Linked DNA regions of Homo sapiens. The protein of the gene in region 1 binds, or shares a complex with, the protein of each later gene. Each region holds a gene or a part of one and is shown in the gene's direction. Other genes may lie near its edges.

Region 1 (3,671 bases):
CTCTGTCTCCAGGGTCCCCTTTGTCTGTCTTTTTCTGTTCATCATACTATCCCTTAACACATAATAAAGTATTAGATAACTCTGATTGCCCCCTTTTGAGGCCCACAAGGGTAAGACACTTGATCCTATCCTTGATTCCACTGCGCCCGGCCCCTTGAGGAACTTACTTGTTCCTAAGGTTTCCAACTAGAACATTTAGATGTAGCTGTGGAGGGATGACCTTTAAATGCCATTCCTCTGCTGTCAGAGATCTTTTCCAAATGCACATAGTGAATGCACACTTTCTGCAGAAGCCTCAGAATTCCCCGGTGTTTCCTGCTCCTGCCTCCATGGATGTCCCTCCTTTGTGACTGTGTTTCATCTATGGCCCCTACTTCCTTGACCCCCAAGCTGCTGCCAGAATCTATCTGCTGGCTGCTTTGTAGCCATTATGCCAACCAGCCTTCCCCACATGAGGAAACATCCATCACACAGTGATCACTCCCCACTCCACCATATCTGTTCCTATGTGTCTTGCTTTGAACTCATGCTTTCCCCTTCCTGTCCCAGGTACAGCTGTTCAGAGGAGATCCTGACAGTGGCTGCCATGCTCTCTGTCAACAACTCCATCTTCTACCGACCAAAGGACAAGGTCGTCCATGCTGACAATGCCCGTGTCAACTTCTTTCTCCCTGGCGGTGACCACCTGGTTCTGCTAAATGTTTACACACAGGTCACTGGGCTTGGGTGAGTGGGAATGAGAGACACTGGGGGACTTTAGTCCTGCTGTATACTTAATTATCTCTCCTTTCTTTTTAACTGTCTTCCCAGTGGGCTGAGAGTGGTTACTCTTCCCAGTGGTGCTATGAGAACTTTGTACAGTTCAGATCGATGCGCCGAGCCCGGGATGTGCGGGAACAGCTGGAAGGGCTCTTGGAACGTGTGGAAGTTGGTCTCAGTTCCTGCCAGGGGGACTATATCCGTGTACGCAAGGTCAGCATTTCTTCAGCCTCCTGCTTTCCACCCCCAGTACCTTCCCAGGAGCAAGCTTCTCTGGGGGCATGCAGCATTTCCTCCAGCGTGAGAGCATGCCCTCTTCCCCTTGTGTATGACGTGTCCTCCCAGGGCCCTTTCTTCCCCAGACCACTGAAGGTTCATTCCTGGGAAGTTCTTCATGCATTCCTTACCTCTCTAGTTTTCCTGAAGCCTGAACTAAAAAGGTAGTGCATTCTTAGGGTCCCCAGATGTCTGCCTTTTCCATTGATTTTCTTTCCTGCCCGCTCCTTAGGCCATCACTGCTGGTTACTTTTACCACACGGCACGGTTGACTCGGAGTGGCTACCGCACAGTGAAACAGCAGCAGACAGTCTTCATTCATCCCAACTCCTCCCTCTTTGAGCAACAGCCACGCTGGCTGCTCTACCACGAACTTGTCTTGACCACCAAAGAGTTCATGAGACAGGTGAGGAGAACATCCTGTGCCCACGCAGGTGGAGACTATGTAGAGAGATGGTGTCCTGGCAAGCTAAGAACCCAGGTTCAAGTTGCTGGGACTGGTACAGAAAGAGGAAGGTAGGGTAAAATAGAAAGACATCCTTTGTTTTTTTTTGTTTTTTTTGAGACGGAGTCTCACTCTGTTGTCCAGGCTGGAGTGCAGTGGCGCAATCTAGCCTCACTGCAACCTCTGCCTCTGGGGTTCAAGAGATTCTCATGCCTCAGCCTCCCAAGTAGCTGAGATTACAGGCGCAAGCCTCCAGGCCTGGCTAATTTTTGTTATTTTTAGTAGAGATGAGGTTTCACCATGTTGGCCAGGCTGGTCTCAAATGCCTGCCTCGGCCTCCCAAAGTGCAGGGATTACAGGTGTGAGCCACCATGCCCAGCCCAAAGACATCCTTTCTAACAGGTGTGTCAGCATCTTCCAAGATCTGAGAACTAGACACTTATTCAATAAATATTTGAATGGCTACTGTATAGGTGCTGGGGCTATAATGAACAAAGCAGTCTCTGGTCTCACAGAGTATAGTCTTTATGTTCTAGGCTTTTCTTTTTTTTGAGAGTTCCGTGCTGTTGTAGCCCAGGCTGGAGTGCAGTGGCACCATCTCAGCTCATGCAACCTCCGCCTTCGGTTTCAAGTGATTCCCCTGCCTCAGCCTCCAGTGTAGCTGGGATTACAGGTGCCCACCACCACGCCCAGCTAATTTTATATTTTTAGTAGAGACTGGGTTTCACCATGTTGGCCAGGCTGATCTCGAACTCCTGACCTCATGATCCGCCTGCCACGGCCTCCCAAAGTGTTGGGATTACAGGTGTGAGCCACTGTGCCTGGCATGTTGTTCTAGACTTTTCTTGGGAATAGCTTATTTGGTATCTTGAATAACATACAGAGGTGTATCTGCCCTTTGGGTATATAATAATAGAGCCAGGCACCTTTACACCTAGCCCTGCAGTCAAAGAGGAAAGATAACTTTTGACCATACACATAAGGATCTAGGTTGGGGCTGGGCATAGTGGCTCATTTTTGTAAACCATCCCAGCACTTTGGGAGGCCAAGATCAGCCCAGGCAACATAGTGAGACCCCAACTATACAAAAAATTAATGGTGCACTGTGATGTGTGCCTGTAGTCTCAGCTACTTGGGAGGCTGAGGCAGTAGGACTGCTTTGAGCCATGATACGCCACTGCAGTCCAGCCTGGGCAATAGAGCAAGACTCTGTTTCAATTTAAGAAAAAAAAATAACAACAACAAAAGATCTATGTTGGAAAGAAGGGAACTCCATTGATCTTTTCTCTCTCCTAGGTACTGGAGATTGAGAGCAGTTGGCTTCTGGAGGTGGCTCCCCATTATTATAAGGCCAAGGAGCTAGAAGATCCCCATGCTAAGAAAATGCCCAAAAAAATAGGCAAAACACGAGAAGAGCTAGGGTAAGAGAAGGACGTAAACAGAACCTGACACCAGCTCCTTTTCCTTCTATACATTATTTAATACCTATTAAATAAAATTATTTTTGGAATAAAGCTTGTGGGAACATTTGGGATCTAGAGAAAGTGATATGTGAAATTCTATCTCATATAGTCAGTTAAACTTTATTATTTACAAGTTAAATTACACAGCAGCTTTACACAGCATGAGATGGAAAGGAAGGAAGGAGAGAAACGAGGAGAGGAAGCTGGCTCCTGAGATTCTTGGCTGCCTCCACCTCCTTCTCTTGGGCGTAGCAGTCTTCAGTGCTGCCTCCACTCCAAGGTCAAGGATCAGGGCTTGGAACACAGGTTTAAGTCAGGTTCTGGCTCTGACAGCCCCAGGGCCACCAGGGCTCCCACTAGCAGCTTCTTCACAGGCGTTGGAGGTGAGTGTGAAGGCATCAGCTGCAGGGAGAAAGGTTAATGCCAGTTGGGGGAGGCACACAAATGTTCTACCCTTTACCCCACCCAGCCCTACCTAGGACTCACTTTATCTAGACGATGGCGACAAATGAGGCCACTGGAATTCAGGTAGAAAGTGGAGTAGGCATCATAGGTCCTGGGGAATAGAGGGAGGCTTACTGAGGGAGAAGGTGACTGGTCCCAAAGCTGAATTCAAGCATTTGTTTAAACGAGTAGTCCCTAAATTCTGCTACATATTAGATCACCTGGGCAACTTACAAACATCTCAGTGCTTAGGTTGTGCCCTGTCTCAATTAAATCAGAGTGTT
Region 2 (7,669 bases), on another chromosome or scaffold:
GCCAGGGCAATGGAGCTTGGGCAGGCTGTTTCCAGCCACATATGAGAAATGGAAGCCTCCAGGGTTGAGAACCAAGGGAGTCAGATCAACCAGTCAGATCAACCATGTGGCTGCAAGACAGGGCAGAGAGGGGACGTCAGCCCCAGGCCCCTCCACACCTCATGTGCAGTTCTACAGCACGGGCACAGGCACTGCCTACACAGAGCCAACCTCTGAGCCCAGACCCCTCCACTGTAAAATGAGAATAAGCACTCAGGATGGTTGTGAGGATTCACTAACAGACTGAGAAGAAATGGTGACCTAGGCTGGCACATGGGACACTCCCCAAGATGCTCCTTTTTCATTTCCCTCAAGCCCAGAGTAAACCCCTTCGACCTCCTTGGGTTTCGTGACAGGCCATTCCAGTTTAATTTCACTTCAGATCTTGAAATGTCCAAATTCTTCACCTGGAGGATAGAAAGGAAATCTCAGGATAAGTTTGTTGGCCTCATTTGAAGAAAAGTACCTTATAGAAGAGCCATAAGAATGACGTGGCTTTCATTCACTCAGCAGATACATTGGGACCATCTCTTGTGCCCACCTTGAGCTTGGTTAGGGGTACAGGAGATGGGGTCGGGCACGCTGGGAACTAAGGAGGTCTGAACCCAGCCTGGGGGATGGAGGACTGCCTGGAGGTGGAGGCCAGACCTGAATGAGTCACACAGGCTAAGTGGGGAGTCAAGAGGTGCAGGCAGTTAGGCCACCACACCTGGCCGCTCATCTTTTTCAGCATTGAATAATATTCCATTGCCTGGATATGCCACATTTTATCATTCGCCCAATGAAGGATATCCTGGTTGCCTCCAAGTTTTGCAATTATGAATAAAGCAGTATAAACATCTGTGTGGAGGTTTTAGAGTATACATAACTTTTCAACTCATTTGGGTAAATACCAAGGAGCATGCTTGCTGAATCATAGGGTACGATAGCCAAACTGTCTTCCAAAAAGACTGTACCATTTTGCATCCAGCAATGAATAAGAATTCAAAGGCCTTGGCTGGGCACAATGGCTCATACCTATAATCCCAGCACTTTAGGAGGCTGAGGCGGGCGGATCACGAGGTCAAGAGATGGAGACCATCCTGGCCAACATGGTGAAACCCTGTCTCTACTAAAAATACAAAAATCAGCAGGGCGTGGTGGCTCATGCCTGCAGTCCCAGCTACTTGGGAGGCTGAGGCAGAAGAATCGCTTGAACCCAGGAGGCAGAGGTTGCAGTGAGCCAAGATCGTGCCACTGAACTCCAGCCTGGCGACAAAGTGAGACTCTGTCTTTAAAAAAAAAAAAAAGAATTCAGAGGACTTTTTGTGTAAGGAACTCACACTGTTTTATAAAAAGACAATTCAGAATTCTGGCCGAGCGTGGTGGTGCACTACTGTAATCCCAGCAATTTGGGAGGAGTGAGGTGGGGGATCACTTGAGCTCAGGTATTCAAATTAGCCAGGCATGTTGGTGCGCACCTGTAGTCCCAGCTACTTGGGAGGCGTGAGTGGGAGAATCTCTTGAGCCCAGAGGGTGGAGGCAGGCACCTGTAGTCCCAGCTACTCGGGAGGCTGAGGCAGGAGAATTGCTTGAACCCGGGAGGTGGAGCTTGCAGTGAGCCGAGATCACGCCACTGTACTCCAGCCTGGGCAACAGTACGAGACTCCATCTCAAAAAATAAAAAGTAATAATAATAATAATAATAATAATAATAATAAATCTTTAAGTTCACCAATAACAATAGATACAAAATATTCCATCAAACGGGTGGAACATCATTTACTCAACTGTTCTTGCTTTTTGAAATATTTCTCCAATGGGGTCAATTTTTAGGTTATTGGTGCATTTTGCTTTCTGACTGAGTCATCATGGTGCATCACCACAAATGGGTTATTTTTAATTGGTTTGTATTTATTTGTTTGCTTGCTTATTTAGAGACAGAGTTGTGCTCTGTTGCCCAGGCTGTAGTGCAGTGGCGCGATCTCAGCTTACTGCAACCTCTGCCTCCCAGGTTCAAGCGATCACCATGCCTCAGGCCTCCTGAGGAGCTGGGATCACAGGCACATGCCACCACGCCCAGCTAATTTTTGTATTTTTAGTAGAGACAGGGCTTCACCATGTTAGCCAGGCTGGTCTCGAACTCCTGACCTCAGGTGATCCAACCGCCTTAGCCTCCCAAAGTGCTGGAATTACAGGCGTGAGCCACCGCACCGACTGTCCCCTCCCCACACCCCGGCCCTTTTTTAAAGAGACAGGATCTCACTCTGTTGCCCAGGCTAGAGTGCAGTGGCTTGATCATAGTTTACTGCAGCCTCAAACTCCTGGGCCTCAAGTGATCCTTCCACTACAGCCTCCCAAGTAGCTGGAATCACAGGTGCTGCCACCATGCTGGGCCTAAGATTCCAGCCCTTAAGGAGCTACATCCCATCCACTGTATGTGTGTCATGGAGGCAGTGGTTGTGTCAGGGAGGGTGCTCAGTAAACCGGGACACAGACTGAATTACACAGGATTACAAATTGTGAGGAATTGTGACAGACTTTATGGGAGATGCATGGAAGTGGGTGGTTAGGGAAGGTCTCTCTGGGGAGGTGACACTTATGTTAAAACCTAGAGAATAAGAAGCCAGCCATGAAATAAGGCAAAGATAGCTGGCTTTCGGTGACTGGGTGGATGGTGGTACTGCTCAGCAGAGTGGGGACTGGGAGAAGAGGGAGGATTGAAAATTCTGCTTTATGGCCGGGTGCGGTGACTCATGCATGTAATCCCAGGACTTTGGGAGGGCTGAGGCGGGAGGATCACCTGAGGTCGGGAGTTCGAGACCAGCCTGACCAACATGGAGAAACCCCTTCTCTACTAAAAATACAAAATTAGCCAGGCGTGGTGGCGCATGCCTGTAATAATCCCAGCTACCTGGGAGACTGAGGCAGGAGAATCGCTTGAACCTGGGAGGCGGAGGTTGCAGTGAGCCAAGATCACACCATTGCACTCCAGCCTGGGCAACAAGAGCAAAACTCCATGTCAAAAAAAAAAAGAAAAAAAAAAAGAAAATTCTACTTTGACCAGACATGTTAATTTAATTTTTTTAGGCAGAGTCACTCTGTCACCCAGGCTGGGATGCAGTGGCCTAATCTTGGCTCACGGCAACCTCTGCCTCCCCAGTTCAAGCTACTGTCTCGGCCTCCCAAGTAGCTGGAATTACAGGTGTGTGCCACCACACCAGGCTAATTTTTTGTATTTTTAGTAGAGATGGGGTTTTGCCATGTTGGCCAGGTTAGTCTTGAACTCCTGACCTCAAGTGATCCGCCTGCCTCAGCCTCTCAAAGTGCTGGGATTGGCCGGGCGTGGTGGCTCACGCCTGTAATCCCGGAACTTTGGAAGGCCAAGGCAGGCGAATCAGGAGGTCAGGAGATCGAGACCATCCTGGCTAACATGGTGAAACCCCGTCTCTACTAAACACACACACACACACACACACACACACACACACAAAGTGCTGGGATTACAGGCGTGAGCCACCACGCCCATCCAGACATGTTACATTTCAGATCAGTGGTTACCCAAGTGGAGATCAGGAACCTGGAGTGCTGGTGACTTAGTACTGGGAGTCATGGGATACAAATGGCATTTAAAATTAGGAGCCTAGGCAAGATTACCCTGGGCCTGAGTGTAGCTAGGGGCCCAAGGTACTGATCTGACCCAAGGGAAGGGTCTGGCAGAAGAGACGGAAGGGATCAGGTAGGGCTTTGGACCTCTAGGCTTGATGGCCACCTGCTGCTGGGCCTCCGAGGGGCCTGGAGGCGGTGGGGACCGAATATGCAGAGAGAATGAGAAGTGAGCGAGTAGAACGAGAGTGGTACATGGCTTTGAAGGCATCTGCCACGGAGGCGGGAAGGGATGGGGTGGAGGCTCATGAGACTTGAAGCTCTAGGAGGACGTTGAAAAAGACCTGAGCGCTGGCCGGGCGCGAAGCCTCAGGCCTGTAATCCCAGCACTTTGGGAGGCCAAGGCGGGAGGACTGCTTGAGCTCAAGAGCTCCAGACCAGCCTGGGCAACATTGTAAGAGCCTGTCTCTACAAAAAATTAACAAATTAGCCGGGTGTGGTGGTGCGTGCCCGTAGCTACTCGGGAGGCTGAGGTGGGAGAATCGCTTGAGCCTGGGAGGTCGAGGCAGTAGTGAGCTGTGATTGTGCCACTGCACTCCAACCTGGGCGACAGAGCGAGACCCTGTCTCGAAAATAAATAAATAAGACCTGAGAACCCAGTATGGGAATGGCCCTGAGCCGTGGCTAGGGGGGTAGACAAGGCGGTCCAGACAGACCCCTCAAGAAGATGGGGCTTCGAGGCTGAGGGAGCTCGGCCCCGAAAAGACGCCTGCGGGAGATGGCACACCTAGCTAGGACCCCATACTGGGCAGGCGATCCTTCCGAGCATGAGCACCTGGCGCTAGCGAACCACAATTCCCAGCACGCCAGGCGCCCGTTTCCGGGGCGCGCCGCGGAACCCGGAAGTGGTCACGGAACTCGGCTGCGGCTCCATGGTCTGAGTTGTCAGCCGTTGTTTTTTCGTGCTCGCTAGTCGCCGCCGCCGCTCCGCCATGGGGAAGCGACAGCACCAAAAGGACAAAATGTAAGTTGAGCCGCAGTCGGGAGCGGCGCTCCACTCTGCCTCAGTGAACCGCCTGTCCCGCACTGCGCGCCGCTCGCCTTCCCTCTCAGCTACTCCCCAGAGCACAGCCCAAAGGTCACTTCCTCCCGGAAGCTGCCGCCCTGTCTCCAGTCAGGGTAATGACCCTCGGGCCGCCGCGCTCTCCCGGGGCCGCGGCTCCGATGACGTCAGCTGCGGGCTCGAGCGCAGCCCGGTTTTCCTTACTCTGGTTCTGCCCGGACCGTCCCCCGTCTGTTCGCGAGTTTCGCCCTTGAATGAGTAGTCTCTACCTCTTCCGTACTTCACGTCTCGCTGTGTTCTGGTTCATGCCTATCAGCCTGCAAACGTGCTGCAGAGCCTTCTAATTTAAAGCAAACCAGGTCGGGCGCAGTGGCTCACCTGTAATCACAGCACTTTGGGAGGCCGAGGCGGGCGGATCACCTGAGGTCAGGAGTTCAAGACCAGCCTGGCTAATACGGTGAAACCCCGTCTCTACTAAAAATACAAAAATTAGCGGGGCGTGGTGACGGGCGCCTGTAATCCTAGCTATTTGGGAGGCTGAGGCAGGGGAATCGCTTGAACCCGGGAGGCGGAGGTTGCGGTGAGCCGAGATCGTGTCACTGCACTCCAGCCTGGGCGACAGAGCGAGACGCTGTCTCAAAAATAATAAATAAAATTTAAAAATCCACCCGTGCCCCGTGCCCCACGTCCCACGTTCCCCTCCCGCTGCCGCCGTGTTGTTTCTCTTAAGAACAAGTGAGAGACTAGTGGCTTCATGCTGTTTTCTGAGTCTCTTGAAACCACTCAAGTCAGAATTTCGACCCCAGAACTGTTGGGCTTCTCAACAGTATGTCACACCGTTGACCACTCCCTCTTTCTGAAGCCCTCCTTTGGTATCTGGGATTTCACCTGCTCTTTGTTTTCTCTCGACTTCAGCGGCCTCTCTTTTCAGGTTCCCAGCGACTTCTTGTTGCTAAATATAGTATTCAATCCTCAGTCCTCATTTTTTTTTTTTTTTTTTTTTGAGACGCAGTTTCGCTCTTGTTGCCCAAGCTAGAGTGCAATGGTGAGATCTTGGCTCACCGCAACCTCCGCTTCCCGGCTTCAAGAGATTTTCCTGCCTCAGCCTCCCGAGTAGCTGGGATTACAGGCATACGCCACCATGCCCAGCTAATTTTGTATTTTTAGTAGAGAAGGGGTTTCTCCATGTTGGTCAGGCTGGTCTCGAACTCCTGACCTCAGGTGATCCACCTGCCTCGGCCTCCCAAAGTCCTGGGATTACAGGCGTGAGCCACCGCGTCTGGGCAGCCTCAGTCCTCATTTTGTTGGGCTTCTCAACAGTATGTCCCACTGTTGACCACTCCCTCCTTCTGAAGCCCTTCTTTGGTATCTGGGATTTCACATGCTCTTTGTTTTCCATCGACTTCAGCGGTCTTTCTTTTCCCAGTCTCCTTTCTGGACCCTCCTCCCTTCTCTCAGATCTCATACGTTTCTTTTCCATAAACATTCTCTGTGGGTGATATAATTTCCCAGTCATCTATAAGCTGCTTTCCCCAGTCTTGTGTAGTTAGTGGCTTACTTAATATCTCCACTGGAGGACTGAAAGACATCTCAAATTTTTTTTTTTTTTTTTTTTTTTTTTTTGAGATGGAGTCTTGCTCTGTCGCCCAGGCTGGAGTGCAATGGTGCCGTCTTGGCTCACTGCAACCTCTACTTCCCACATTCAAGCAATTCTCCCACCTCAGCCTCCCCAGTAGCTGGGATTATAGGTGCCTGCCACCATGCCCATGCTAATTTTTGTATTTTTAGTAGAGACAGGTTTTCACTATGTTGGTCAGGCCGGTCTCGAACTCCTGACGTCGAGTGATCGACCTACCTCTGCCTCCCAAAGTGCTGGGATTACAGGCGTGAGCCACCGTGCCGGGCCAGACATCTCGAATTTAATATGCCTTAAACAGAACTCTTGATTTTCAGCTCTTGAGCCTGCTCCTCCCTGTAAACTAAAAATAAAACCCTAAGTCCCCCCACTGGCTAAGCAGACACCCTTGTGGCCAAGAGAACCCCAGGAAAACCTTAAAACTGAGTTCCTGGCCATGATGGGATAGAGATCAGCTGTGCCTTGTTATATCCCCCTCCCTTTTGTGGCTTAGACACAACAACTGACCAGCATTAATGTTGAAATAGAGATCATAAGGGGCCAGGCACGGTGGCTCACACCTGTAATCCCAGCACTTTGGGAGGCTGAGGCGGGTGGATCACCAGGTCAGGAGATCGAGACCATCCTGGCTAACACGGTGAAACCCCATCTCTACTAAAAATACACAAAAAAATCAGCTGGGCGTGGTGGCAGGCGCCTGTAGTACCAGCTACTCGGGAGGCTGAGGCAGGAGAATGGCGTGAACTCACGAGGTGGAGCTTGCAGTGAGCCGACATTGCACAACTGCACTCCAGCCTGGGCAGCGAGCAAGACTCCGTCTCAAAAAAAAAATAAATAAAATAAATAAAAATAAAGAAATAGAAATCATAAGATTGACAAAACAGACTCTTTGTGGCAATAAGATACCATTTTTTTTTTTTTTTGAGACGGAGTCTCGCTCTGTCGCCCAGGCTGGAGTGCGGTGGCATGGTCTCCGCTCACTGCAAGCTCCGCCTCCCGGGTTCATGCCATTCTCCTGCCTCAGCCTCCCGAGTAGCTGGGACTACAGGCGCCTGCCACCACGCCCGGCTAATTTTTTGTATTTTCAGTAGAGACGGGGTTTCACTGTGTTAGCCAGGATGGTCTCCATCTCCTGACCTGGTGATCCGCCCGCCTCGGCCTCCCAAAATGCTGGGATTACAGGTGTGAGCCACCGTGCCTGGCCCTCTATTTTTTTTTTTTTTTTAGTAGAGACTGGTTTCACCGTGTTAGCCAGAATGGTCTCCATCTCCTGACCTCGTGATCTGCCCGCCTTGGCCTCCCAAAGTGCTGGGATTATAGGCGTGAGCCACCTTGCCCGGCCGGTT

What was found.
Region 2: DHX16 (region 1) and PPIL2 share a complex: the UniProt entries of both Homo sapiens proteins name them as parts of the minor spliceosome.

Annotation. Positions count from the first base shown.
Region 1 is NC_000006.12:30,652,476-30,656,146, reverse strand, and holds the end of DHX16 (pre-mRNA-splicing factor ATP-dependent RNA helicase DHX16), read left to right. Parts: intron 1-549; coding exon 550-712; intron 713-810; coding exon 811-972; intron 973-1,267; coding exon 1,268-1,441; intron 1,442-2,776; coding exon 2,777-2,905; 3' UTR 2,906-3,020; downstream 3,021-3,671. Other genes in the region: uncharacterized protein C6orf136, read right to left, coding at 3,232-3,345, 3,430-3,499. UniProt on the Homo sapiens protein: Required for pre-mRNA splicing as a component of the spliceosome. Contributes to pre-mRNA splicing after spliceosome formation and prior to the first transesterification reaction.
Region 2 is NC_000022.11:21,661,484-21,669,152, forward strand, and holds the start of PPIL2 (RING-type E3 ubiquitin-protein ligase PPIL2), read left to right. Parts: upstream 1-4,528; 5' UTR 4,529-4,616; coding exon 4,617-4,648; intron 4,649-7,669. UniProt on the Homo sapiens protein: Has a ubiquitin-protein ligase activity acting as an E3 ubiquitin protein ligase or as an ubiquitin-ubiquitin ligase promoting elongation of ubiquitin chains on substrates.